Regions from separate parts of the Homo sapiens genome. Here region 1 is linked to region 2. Evidence: fine-mapped expression QTL. A gene starts in region 2. The other region holds a variant in brackets. All regions are shown on one strand. Distances are from middle to middle.

What was found. PIP is the estimated chance that this variant, and not a neighbour inherited with it, causes the effect.
Region 1: its variant is the best candidate, but not a certain one, in a credible set for the expression of LSM4 in whole blood (INTERVAL, PIP 0.87).

Annotation. Positions count from the first base shown.
Region 1 is chr19:18,299,663-18,302,567 of GRCh38, reverse strand. No RefSeq gene overlaps it. Among named protein-coding and RNA genes, the nearest start is that of MIR3188, 19 kb to the right of the region's middle. RefSeq lists a cis regulatory region at 1,099-1,518. The variant A/G (reference allele first, on the strand shown) is at 1,576.
Region 2 is chr19:18,321,451-18,324,355 of GRCh38, reverse strand. LSM4 (LSM4 homolog, U6 small nuclear RNA and mRNA degradation associated) reads left to right here and starts at 1,280. Exons shown (of 5, transcript NM_012321.5): 1 at 1,280-1,338. The coding sequence starts at 1,336. LOC105372300 (a long non-coding RNA gene) reads right to left here. Exons shown (of 2, transcript XR_007067157.1): 2 at 2,359-2,622. RefSeq lists enhancers at 139-741, 940-1,159 and a silencer at 1,220-1,399.

The DNA of each region.
Region 1 (2,905 bases), 22 kb after region 2:
TCTCCACTTACTGAAACCTCTGTCTCTCAGGTTCAAGCAATTCTCCTGCCTCAGCCTCCCGAATAGCTGGGATTACAGGCGTCCGCCACCACGCCCAGCTAATTTTTGCATTTTTTAGTAGAGACAGGATTTCGCCATGTTGGCTAGGCTGGTCTCGAACTCCTGACCTCGGGCAATCCGCCCGCCTCGGCCTCCCAAAGTGCTGGGATTACAGGCGTAAGCCATCTCGCCCGGCCAAGCATCAGCCTCTTCTCAAGGAGACTTCGAGTGAGGGCGAGGATTCCCCGAGCTCCCACTCAGCCTTGCCGCTCAGCCCCGTGGGTTTCCAAAGCCACTTCCAACCCAGCACCTCCGAGGGTCCTCACAGATGGAGAAATGAAGGCTCAGGACAGGCACACAATCCAAGCAACAGCCGATAATTGTTTTTTATTTTTTTTACAGATAGGGGTCTCACCATGTTGTCCAGGCTGGTCTCAAACTCCTAGGCTCAAACGATCCTCCCACCTTAGCCTCCCAAAGTGCTGGGATTACAGGCCTGAGCCAGTATGCTCAGCCAACCATTGTTTATCTATCATGAATGTGTGCCAGGCAGCTCCGGAACTCACCCATAGGGTGGCATCGTCATTCACTGCTCAGGCACAGAGAGGGTGAGGAACCTGCCCCAGGTCACACAGCAATGGTGACCTCCTCTTTCCACTGCCTCCTTAAACCTGAAGGATCCATTGACCTTCTCCCAGCTCAGGCACAGTCAGGACCCCAAAATTGGTTGGGAATAGGGTGTGGGGGGTAAGCAAGATCGGCTGCTGCTTTAAAACTCACTCCCCTGATTGTAACATCAGCTGAGGGACAGGATTTGAGGCACATAGTTAGGTGCCTGGAGGGCTTAACCCTACCGTGCCTCAGTTTCCTCCCTGGTCGGGGGGATAACAGCAGCTCTACCTCATGGGGGTTATTGGGCAGATTGCATGAAGGGAGGATGCCAGTAATCATTTTAGGACTGGCCTGGTATACAGCAAGTGCTCAATAAATGCTTGAAATAATCTAAGATGGCATCTCGCCTAGCACCTGTGGGGTGTCCAGAACCTCACGGGGGACCCTCCATCTTTACAACTATGGGGTTGGCGTGAGCAGCTCATTGTCCCAGGGCACCCAGGCAGTGGCCCCTCTGGATTGGCCAGTGCCATGGGGAATAGAAAGGCCGCTGTCCTCTGTGCCCTGGAGGCTGGCTTAGGAAGCCTGGCCCCAGGCCAGTGACCGTTCACCTTGCAGGCCTGCGATCCTGCCCTTCGAGCCGCCTCCCAGCCTGGGCCTGGCCTCTGCGGCCACTGGGCAGTGAGTGACTCACCCCTGCCCCGCCTCCACTGGAACCAGGCACCGAAATAGTCACCCAGCTCGCTCTCGGGAGTGGCCGTGGAAATATTTCAGGGCTGCATTCAGCACCTAAAAATACTCCTCACGTCCTCAAGTGTCTTCCCCACCCTCATCTCCCCTCCTCTGCACCACCAGGGCCAGACCCTCCTTGCCCCACCCCTCCAGCATCAAGTAACTCAGACATCCTGGCCCCAGAGCCTTCTC[A/G]AAGGTCAGCTTCTTCTGAAACCCCCTGAAATCTCAGACCAGGTTGGGGAGGCCGGGGCTCAGTGACATTGTCTGGGGAGACCTTCACTGCCCAGCAGTTTTCCTTAAACATTAAAAAAATGGCTGGGGGTGGTGGCTCACACCTGTAATCCCAGCACTTTGGGAGGCTGAGGCGGGCGGATCACGAGGTCAGGAGTTCAAGACCAGCCTGGCTAACACGGTGAAACCCAGTCTCTACTAAAAATACAGAAATTAGGCGGGCATGGTGGTGAGCGCCAGTAATCCCATCTACTCGGGAGGCTGAGGCAGGAGAATTGCTTTAACCTGGGAGGTGGGGGTTGCAGTGAGCCGAGATCATGCCACTGCACTCCAGCCTGGGTGACAGAGCAAGACTGTCTTGGGAAAAAAAATTAAAAATTAAAAAAATGGGCCAGGTGCAGTGGCTTATGCCTGTAATCCCAGCACTTTGGGAGGCTGAGGTGGGTGGACCACCTGAAGTCAGGAGTTTGACACCAGCCTGGGAAACATGGTGAAACCCCGTCTCTACTAAAAAATATAAAAATTGGCCGGGCGTGGTGGCTCACACCTGTAATCCCAGCACTTTGGGAGGCCGAGGCGGGCGGATCATGAAGTCAAGAGATGGAGACCATCCTGGCTAACATGGTGAAACCCCGTCTCTACTAAAAATACAAAAATTAGCCAGGCCTGGTGGCACACACCTGTAGTCCCAGCTACTCGGGAGGCTGAGGCAGAAGAATTGCTTGAACCCGGGAGGCAGAGGTTGCAATGAGCCGAGGTCACACCACTGCACTCCAGCCTGGCAACAGAGTGAGACTCTGTCTCAAAAAAACCAAAACAAACAAACAAAAAAATTAACCGGGTGTGGTGGCAGGCACCTGTAATCCCAGCTACTCAGGAGGCTGAGGCACGAGAATTGCTTTAACCCGGGAGGCAGAGGTTGCAGTGAGCTGAGATCTCGCCACTGCACTCCAGCCTGGGTAAGAAGAGCAAAACTTCATCTCAAAAAAAAAAAAATTAATTAGATTTAAAAATGGTTCTTGGCCGGGCACAGTAGCTCAAGCCTGTAATCCCAATACTTTGGGACGCCAAGGCGGGCGGATGGCTGGAGCCCAGGATCCCAGTCTGGGCAACATAGTGAGACCCTACCTCTACAAAACAAATGAAATTAGCCAAGCACGGCGGTACACACCTGTAGTCCCAGCTGCTGAGGAGGCTGAAGGGGGAGGATCACTTGAGTAGGGAGGTTGAGGCTACAGTGAGCCATGATTGCGCCACTGCACTCCAGCCTGGGTGACAAAGCAAGACCCCC
Region 2 (2,905 bases):
CACTGCACTGCAGCCTGGGTGATAGAATGAGACTCCATCTCAAAAAAAAAAGAACAGGGTCTTCGCAGATGTAATTAAGGATCTTGAGATGACATTATCCTGAAATTTATGGTGGACTTAATAAGAGAAAGGAGTGTCCTTTACAAGAAAAAGGAGCGGCCGGGCTCGGTGGCTCACGCCTGTAATCCCAGCACTTTGGGAGGCAGAGGAGGGAGGATTGCTTGACCCCAGGAGTTCGAGACCAGCCTGGACAACATAGGGAGACCCTGTCTCTACTACAAAAAAAAAAAAGAAAAAAAAAAGGAGAGATACATTTGAGACTCAGAGACACACAGAGAAGGCCAAGTGACGACAAAGGCAGAACGCGGAAGGCTGCATCTACAAGCCAAGAACTCCAAGGATTCCCAGCAGCCACCAGAACCCAGGAGAGAGGCATAGGACACACAGATTGTCCTCAGAGCCTCCAGAGGGAGCCAACTGTGCTGACAACCTCACTTCATTATTCTGATCTCTTGAATTGTGAGAAAATCACGTTCTGTTGTTTTAAACCTCGCAGTGTGTGGGCATTTGTTACAGCAGGCCCCAGAAAACTAATAGCATTCGCCTATTTACTTTGTTTACTGTCTGTCTCCCTGAGGGCCACGAATTTTGTGTTTTGTTCATTCTGTGAGCAGAAACAGGCACAGAGTAGGTAATAAGTACTTAATATGTGCCAGACGCTGTTTTAAGTGCTTTTACATGGTTTCATTCATTTCATCCTTACAGTAAGCAACGTTTTGGAGCAGACACTACTATTTACAGGGAGCAAACTGAGGCCCCGAGGGTCGTGGTCAGGATTCCAACCTATTAAATGATGTTCCCTGGATAATTACAGAATCAGAAAACTAGGAGTCGGAAGGGCAACATCAGGCACGGCCCAATCACCACGAAGCCTCGATTTCTCTCTCTCTACTGCAAACGAAAGGCATTAACTGGCTTTGCCCACAGCGTGGAGCCCAGGAGACCGACGAAGGTTTCACCTGCGCACGCATTTCCTCACAATGCACCCCGCGCCGGCGCGCGTTGCTCCGCCTCCTTTTGCATTACAAGCCGCGGCACTTTACGGCTCTCGTCCTCGTTCCTCCGGCGGGAACACGGCCCGCCCCGCCCTTTCGCCCAGCGGGCCCCGCCCTACTCCGCGTGGATTGGTTGACCGCCCTTCGAGCCCGGTGCTGACTGGCTTGCGTCTCTGCCACTTTCTTTCAGCTTAGTGGCGCGCGGCGCGGCGACGACCGCCGGGAGCGTGTGCAGCGGCGGCGGCGGAAGTGGCCGGCGAGCCCGGTCCCCGCCGGCACCATGGTGAGGGCAGGGCAACTGCGGGGTCTCACCGGGAGGCGGGAACAGCAGTCGTTGGGATCCCTGCGGGCGGGCGCTGTGGGCTTGGTTGGCGCGGGGCGAACGTAAGGTCCGAGCCTCGAGTCCCGCCCCCCGGCACGAGGCTGGGAAACTGAGGCCGGAGACTGCAGGTGGCTCTATCACGTTCGTGTCTGGGATTTAGGGTTGCACGGACTTGTATCCACAGTACAGTGGCCTCGCCTTAGTTAGTTTTCCCAGTTTGCAGGTGGGGAAACTGAAGTAAAAAAAAAAAAGGTGGGGATCCGCCAAATGCAGCAGAGAGTTTTTGGGCAGGGAAGGGGTCCCTTACGCTTCGGGCCCAGTCTGACCTCCCTGATTGAAAACTAGAGTGCTGGGAAGTAGGGGGCCAGTCTGAGTTGTGAAACTTAGTTTTAGGAATTTCAGAGCTTGCAAGATGCTAGCAGCACAGCCTCCTAGGCCTCTTGGTTTCTGGCTGAAAAGCAGGCCTGGTGCTGGGGTGTGGTGTTTCTCCTTGGGTCACATAGCATGTCATTCCAGCGGAAGGGGGCGTTTTGAGCTAGGGGTGGACAAAGTACATCCTCCCAATACAAAGAAGGAAAAATTGCGGCCCAGGTCTCTGCAGGGCCCATTGTTTATGATTCTGGAAGTTCTGGATCTGGGCTAGAAAGTGCCCGTGTCCCCCACTGTGCAGATCGGAAAAGGAATTCAGAGCTGGGAGTTTCCTGGCCCATCAGCTTCTGGTCCTTCTTTTTTCAATGAGAGAAACCAAGGCCCTTGTTGGGGATGTGACTTCCAGACTCTGTGAGACAGTGGGAGATTCAGTAACCAGGAGGGTCCCCCAGGGGTGGCTGCATCAGAACTGTGGATTAGTGAGAACTCTCCCTAAATCCGGCTGGTCAGTGTGTAACCACCCAATGGGTTCACCTTGCCTGTCTTCCTAGACAGATTTATCAAGACAGGGGAATTGCAGTGGAGAAAGAGTATTTCACACAGAGCCAGCTATGCAGGAGACCAGAGTTTTATTATTGCTCAAATCAGTCTCCGCTGAGCATTAGGGGATCCGAGTTTTGAAAGATAATTTGGCGGGTAGGGGCTCAGGAAGTGGGGAGTGCTGATTGGTTGGAGCTTCCTGAGGTCGATGGAGTCATCGACGGGAGTGTTGAAGTGAGGTTTTCTTGCTGTCTTCTGTTCCTGGGTGGGATCGCAGGACTGGTTGAGCCAGATTACTGGTCTGGGTAGTGTCAGCTGATCCGTCAAGTACGGGGTCTGCAAAATATCTCAAGCACTGATCTTAGATTTTATAATAGTGATGTTATCCCAAGGAGCAATTTGGGGAGTTTCAGACTCTTGCAGCCAGAGGCTGAAGTTACCTAAATGGTAATTTCTAATCTTGTAGCTTATTTGTTAGTCCTACAAAGGCAGACTGGTCCCCAGGCAAGAAGAGGGTCTTTTCGGGAAAGGGCTATTACCAATTTTGTTCCAGAGTCAAACTATAAACTAAATCCCTTCCCAAGGTTAGTTTGGCCTATACCTAGGAATAAGCAAAGAT